2 linked regions of the Homo sapiens genome follow. The protein of the gene in region 2 purifies or fractionates together with the protein of the main gene of each other region. This does not show direct contact. Each region holds a gene or a part of one and is shown on either strand. Other genes may lie near its edges.

What was found.
Region 1: the proteins of TSFM (region 2) and REXO2 fractionate together in Homo sapiens (co-fractionation; one large-scale study listed by BioGRID). This does not show direct contact.

What each region holds. Positions count from the first base shown.
Region 1 is NC_000011.10:114,442,467-114,445,966, forward strand, and holds part of REXO2 (oligoribonuclease, mitochondrial precursor), read left to right. Parts: intron 1-1,389; coding exon 1,390-1,467; intron 1,468-2,074; coding exon 2,075-2,186; intron 2,187-3,500. UniProt on the Homo sapiens protein: 3'-to-5'exoribonuclease that preferentially degrades DNA and RNA oligonucleotides composed of only two nucleotides. Binds and degrades longer oligonucleotides with a lower affinity.
Region 2 is NC_000012.12:57,785,787-57,789,286, reverse strand, and holds part of TSFM (elongation factor Ts, mitochondrial isoform 2 precursor), read right to left. Parts: intron 3,125-3,500; coding exon 2,996-3,124; intron 2,248-2,995; coding exon 2,125-2,247; intron 1-2,124. UniProt on the Homo sapiens protein: Associates with the EF-Tu.GDP complex and induces the exchange of GDP to GTP. It remains bound to the aminoacyl-tRNA.EF-Tu.GTP complex up to the GTP hydrolysis stage on the ribosome.

The DNA.
Region 1 (3,500 bases), on a different chromosome or scaffold from region 2:
TTCGCAGAGATTACCAACACCAGTTTTCTTGTTTGGCTAAATCTCCTTTTTAGTAGTAGGATGTCAGGCGTATTTTAATTAAATTCTAGCCATTTCTTTCAGTGATTGTGAACTGTTTTTACCACCTTAGTAGTAATAATACCTTGGATTTATGGAATACTTTTCTATCAGAGAGTTCAAAGAGCTCATATCTATAATTTCTTTTATCCTGTTAACATTTCTATGAGGGAAGGGGTACAGTTTATTATTATCACTATCTTACAGAGGGAGAAGCTGAGGTGACTTGCTTTAATGCCGTAGCTACTGTTAACTGCCAGGACTTATCTGAGAGACTCATACTTGGATGTTCTATGAAATGGAGCTGAGAATTTGAGGGCTACTTTGTGTTTTGGATATCAACAATTACCTCTTTAATTTTTTTTTAAATATAAAAATACTGTTAAAACAGTGTAACTATCCAAAGTATGTGTGTAGTGAACTATTGGATTTTTGTCCTGTTCTATTGCTCCTTCTTACTCCAAGTTTATGTATTGTCTTGATATTTTGTATGTTTATATAAATGCGTGTTTTTTTTAAAACAAGTGTAAATGAAATCATACCTATACATACATGGTTTTGCAATTGTTTTTTTCACCTGCAATATAGATACTTTTTTTTTTTAAGAGATAGGGTCTCACCCTGTCACCCAGGTTGGAGTGCAGTGGCATGTAGCTCACTGTAACCTCGAACTCCTGGGTTCAAGTGATCTTCCTGCCTCAGCCTCCTGAGAAGCTAGGACTGTAGGGGTGTGCCACCAGGCCCACCTAATTTTTTTTTTTTTTTTTTTAATTTTGTAGAAATGAGGTCTTGCTATGTTGCCTGGACTGGTCTTGAACTACTGGCCTCAAGTGATCCTCCCACCTCGGCCTCCCAGAGTGCTGGGATTACCATGCTTGGCCTAGACACTTTTCAAAATGAACTCATAATCAAGGGTTGACAGACTTTTCTGGAAAGAGCAAGTTATTAAATTGTTTAGGCTTTGAGTGCAGTCATATGTTCTTGTCATATGTTCTTTTTTTTTTTTAAACAATCTTTTACAAATGTAAAAATCATTCTTAGCTTTCTAGCTATTAATAAATAGCTGAAGTGTGGGGCCATAGTTTGCTGACCCTTGATAGATATCTGTGTCATCTATTTGTAGGATTAGAGTTTTCAGTGGTGTGTGTATGTTCGTATGTTCTATTTTGCCTTAATGAACAGTGCTGGAATGAAGGGGGAACACTTAAAGTATCCTTATCTCTTACTTTCTCTGATATGTATATTTAGTCCTTAAAACAGCTTAAGCTTTCCCTCTGAAAGTAAGGTTATTCCTGTTGTTTCTTGGTGACTGATGGCGTTTCCCATCCACAGGGTCCTAACCTGATTATAAAACAACCAGATGAGTTGCTGGACAGCATGTCAGATTGGTGTAAGGAGCATCACGGGAAGGTAACATTACCAAATAACAGGATTGCTGCTTTGGGGATCAGTAGCAAGCTTTTTGCTCCCACACCTGAATCCGATACCATTGTTGGATGGTATTTTAAAAAGGCTTAGAGAAGATTGCATGGCAAGCCTGGGAAACTGCTTGCTTGTTTACTTTTCATCTTTGGGACCTCTCGAGATCATCTTCTCCTGAATGTCCTCTTTTTTTTCTCTCCTACATTCAGTCTGTCGCGAACGCATTGTGGATTGTCAAGTATTACTCAAGTCAGTCTTTTGGATAAGGTTAGACATCAACTTTCAGAGAAGGGGGATTGCTGCTCTCCTGTTAATAGTTGTTTCTTCCCAGAGGTTAATATCCTTGGACTTTGAACACCGTCTTTTTTGACTGTGGACATGCTATTAACAGTCAGGATCATAACTAAGTTGGCTTGGATTCTTGAAGAAAAAAAAATGGTGCAAAGATGGCAGTTGCAATTTGAACTTGAGCTCTAAAAATGGTCTATTTGTGGTTATATTTGCCCATTTTAAAAGTGAAATTTCATTTCTGGATGCCTTTGAAAACTGACTTTACATGTGTTTTTGGTGGGGGGCTGGGGATTCTCTCTTGCAGTCTGGCCTTACCAAGGCAGTGAAGGAGAGTACAATTACATTGCAGCAGGCAGAGTATGAATTTCTGTCCTTTGTACGACAGCAGACTCCTCCAGGGCTCTGTCCACTTGCAGGTAAAATCCAATCCTGTGTATATCTTATAGTCTTCCATATGTAGTGGTTCAAGAGACTGCAGTTCCAGAAAGACTAGCCGAGCCCATCCATGTCTTCCACTTAACCCTGCTTTGGGTTACACATCTTAACTTTTCTGTTCAAGTTTCTCTGTGTAGTTTATAGCATGAGTATTGGGAAAATGCCCTGAAACCTGACATGAGATCTGGGAAACACAAACTTACTCAATAAGAATTTCTCCCATATTTTTATGATGGAAAAATTTCACATGCACAGAGGAGTGGATTTAGTAATTGTTAACCTTGTGTCGTATTTGTTTTACCTATTTTTTGTTGGACATTTTAAAGGAAATTGCAGGCATCAGGACACTTCATTCCTAAATACTTCATCAAACATCTCCTAAGATAAAGACATTTTCTTATGTAATACAATGTCATTGCATTGAAGATAATTAAACATTATTCAGTATCATATGATATCTAGTCCACATTAGATGTTCCCCAAAATATTTGTTTTTGAACCAGGATTCAGTCAAGGCTCGTGCATTTCATTTAGTTATATTTCTTTAGTCTCTTAATGTAAAACTTTCCACCTATTATTTTTCCCCTGTGTCATTGACTTTCTAAAGAGACCAGGCCTGTTCTACCAGGATTTTTAAAAGGGTGACATTGCCAGAGGGAAGTTAATGTTTCTCTGAAGGTATATGTACGTTTGTATATGTAAGTCGATGTGGTAGCTAATACTGTTCTTAAACATTTATAAAAATAAGTTTTGGCATTAAGTACTAGAGCATATATTGTGTAAATGTTTCCGCCAGCCAATGTGGCTGATATCTGTTTTAAAGGTCTCATTTAAAATTTAGTGTTTTTAGTATAAGTTACTTTTTGGGGACATAAATATGCATATGATTTGTTTAAAAATTTGGATTGTAAATAAAGGTTTATCTACCTATGTGATTCAGTTAAATTTTTAGTGTTAGTGGTGTGAATTTTGTGACACTGGGAGAAAGTTTGCATATCAGGTATGACCTTAGAAAGTAACAAATAGATTTGTGCATTACATCAAGCATGTGGAATGATAGATTTGTCCTTCTGTTCATGAGAGGTCATTTACAAATTTATAAGGAGCTAAACTGACTAAGTACTTGGAAATCTGTACTTGTAAGCTAATCACATTTACCCAAACCTGATTTAGAAATATAGAGGTGCTTTTAGGAATTGTTTGAATTTTAAAAAATCATCTCCATTTCAAATACAACTTATGAATTTTGATATCCTGTTGTATAATACTAGAAATATAGAGATGCAGTATGCTTC
Region 2 (3,500 bases):
GATTTTTTTTAAACAGTGATGATGACCGGGTGCAGTGGCTCACGCCTGTAATCCCAGCACTTTGGGAGGCCCAGGTGGGCAGATCACCTGAGGTCAGGAGTCAAGACCAGCCTGGCCAACATGGTGAAACTCCCGTCTCTACAAAAATACAAAAAAAATTAGCCGGGCATGATGGCAGGTGCCTGTAATCCCAGCTACTTGGGAGGCTGAGGTGGAAGAATCGCTTGAACTGGGAGGGAGAGGTTGCAGTGAGCGAGATGGCACCATTGCACTCCAGCCTGGGTGACAGAGAGACTCCATCTCAAAAAAAAAAAAAAAAAAGGGCGATGATAACATGTATATAAAAAGTGATAGGGCCAGCTGTAGTGACCCAAGCCTATAATCCCAACACTTTGGGAGGCCAAAGCAGGTGGATTTCTTGAGCCCAGAGGTTTGAGACCAGCCTGGGCAAGATGGCAAGACTGTCTCTACAAAAAACTTAAAAATGAGCCTAGCATAGTGGTGTGCACATGTAGTCCCAGCTACTCAGGAGTCTGAGGTGGGAAGATCACTTGAGCCCAGGAATTTGAGGCAGCAGTGAACAATGATTGTGCCACTGCACTCCAGGCTGGGCAAGAAAGCCAGATCTGTCTCTTAAAGAAAAAAAGAAGTGATAAAGCAAATACAGCAAAATGTTAATAAATGGCAAATCTGGAAAAAGAGTACACTGGGGCCAGGCATGGTGGCTCACGCCTGTAATCCCAGCACTTTGGGAGGCGGAGGCGGGCGAATCACTTGAGGTCAGGAGTTCAAGACCAGCCTGGCCAACATGGTGAAACTCTGTCTTTACAAAAAATACAAATACTAGGCGTGTGTGGTGGCGGGCGCCTGTAGTCCCAGCTACTCGGGAGTCTGATGCAGAATTGCTTGAACCCAGGAGGTGGAGGTTGCAGTGAGCCAAGATTGCACCACTGCACTCCAGCCTGAGTGACAGAGCAAGACTTCATCTCAAAAAACAAAAACAAAAATAAAAAAAAAAAGGGTACACTGGTGTTTACTGGCAAAATCAAAGCTAAAATTTCTAGTTCAAGTGACTTACCTACTCAATACAATTAAAAAAAATAATCTCAACATTGTTTTCCATATGACTATGTAATGCCAATAATAATTAACATTTACCAAGACATCTCAAGAGAAGGATAAAGAAGATAAAAAAAGTTGGTAATAAACTCAAAAAAATTACTGTGAGTGGTTGGTTCATCTTTGCCTTGGCAATAAGGCTGAGTCAAAGGCAGAATGACATAATTCCTTTCCTTGATCCCTCTATGGATAAGAATATGCTTATTTTCCTAAACCATGTCTTTTCCAATCTCTCTCTCTTTTTTTTTTTCTGAGACGGAGTTTTGCTCTTATTGCCCGGGGGGAGTACAACGGCTCACTGCAGCCTCTACCTCCCGGGTTCAAGCGATTCTCCTGCTTCAACTTCCCAAGTAGCTGGGATTACAGGCAAGCGCCACCACGCCCAGCTAATTTTGTATTTTTAGTAGAGACGGGTTTCTCCATGTTGGTCAGGCTGGTCTTGAACTCTCGACTTCAGGTGATCTGCCTGCCTCGGCCTCCCAAAGTGCTGGGATTACAGGGGTGAGCCACCACACCTGGCTCCAATCTCTTTATTTAGAAATTCTTTCCTAAGACCATTCCAAATTTCTGAACACAAAGCCTCAAATGGCTTCACTTGATCTGGCTAACTCCATTTCACTGGCATGCATGCATTCAATCATTCATTCATTCATCTGACAAAGATTTACTGAGCTCCAACTAAGTAGTGGGCCCAATTCTCTTTCACCAGAGATACAACAGTGAAAAGACAAATTCCCTGCCTCATAAAGCTTACATTCTGCTGGGGAAGATAGACAACACACAGATAAATTAAAATGTAATATATAAGCACCATAATAAAAAATTTTAAATGCAGCATGACACGGGGATATAGCAACGGGGGAAGGGTAATTCTATGCAAAGAGATAGCATTTAAGCAGAGATGTGAAGTAACAGAATGAGACATGAGAATGTCTACAATAGGAACAGCAAAAGACCCAATGAGGACAGCAAATTCAGCACACTGGAGACAAATCCCAAACTTACTTTACTGTATGCAGAGGGTTGATCCTTTAGGGTCTGACAATGCATCATGGTTCCAAGGGCTACTTGCTGGACCAACAGTTGAAATTTTAAATTTCTAGAAACAAAATCTGTCTCACAGTTTACCTGTGGGAACAAATTGATATAGCTGTATAAGCTGTTTAATGATAATTTCCAAAAGTGCCTTAAGGCTGGAGAATAAATCAAGATACTGATAGAACAAGCTACAGACTCAACGGAAAAAAAATGACTCCAAAATTTTAAAGCTACGCTTCCTCTCCTAGCCTGGAACAGAATGAAGTGATTTATGTTGGGCCAGTGAGTTAGCAATAGCCTGTATATTCAGAAGATGGTTCAATAATGTCCTGAAGGACTCACCACAAGTTCACCACTTACCTATGTCTGCACACCATCATCACCTCATTCTCCAGCCATCCCAACTCCAAACCACTTATGCTATTATCTTGTTTATCCCCATCTCTCACTCTAAACTAATCCACATCTGACTCTTCACCAATTATGGCCCCCAAACCTCCTCTAAAATACCTACTCTCTATTCAGCAACAATTAATATAATTAACTTGTAATCTAACTGTTCCAGGAAACAATCAGTGACAAGGTGTAAGCCTGTGCCAGACTCACATTCAGGAGTAATATTCTAGACTGTCAGGCCATTTCTCATCAACACACCAGTACATTTCTATACTTAAACGAATTCGTAACTAATACCCAGGGTTTCATGAGTTTAACTTCAACTACGCTTTATGGTTCTTAAACAGATCTCTTCTTCAAGAACAGGCCCCTTTAGGGCCTACTACAAGCTTTACACCCAAGGGACAGCTGTTCTTGGTATCTGGAATTTCCAACAACTCACCTCTACTAATACAGTTGTGTTTCCTTCCTGCAACAGCCCAATCAGGCCTTCTTTGGTCTTCCTCCCTTGGAGCTTGGCAGCTTTGCTCCAGCCCTCCTTCTGGGCCTCCTTGTGGAGCCAGATCTCTGCCTGTAAATTGAGAGGAAAAAGAGCAGACAACAAAGTCACAGAATTTAGCACTAAATGTAGTTCTAAGATATACTCAGGTTTCCTGATTCTCTAAATTCTCTAACAGAAACTAAAGTAATCTATCATTTACTGGCAGTCTACCACTAAATGCCAAATACCAGGTATTATTATAACTGGTGCCTTGGATGAATCTAATCTTCACAACAACCCTATGGGGCACACAGTTGTATTTTCTTTATACAGTTACGCACCACATAACGATATTTTGGACAATGACGGACTGCATATATGATGACGGTCCCTAAGATTATAATGGAGCTGAAAAATTCCTATTGTCTAGTGACACGGTAGTCCTCCTAACATTGTAGGGCAACAT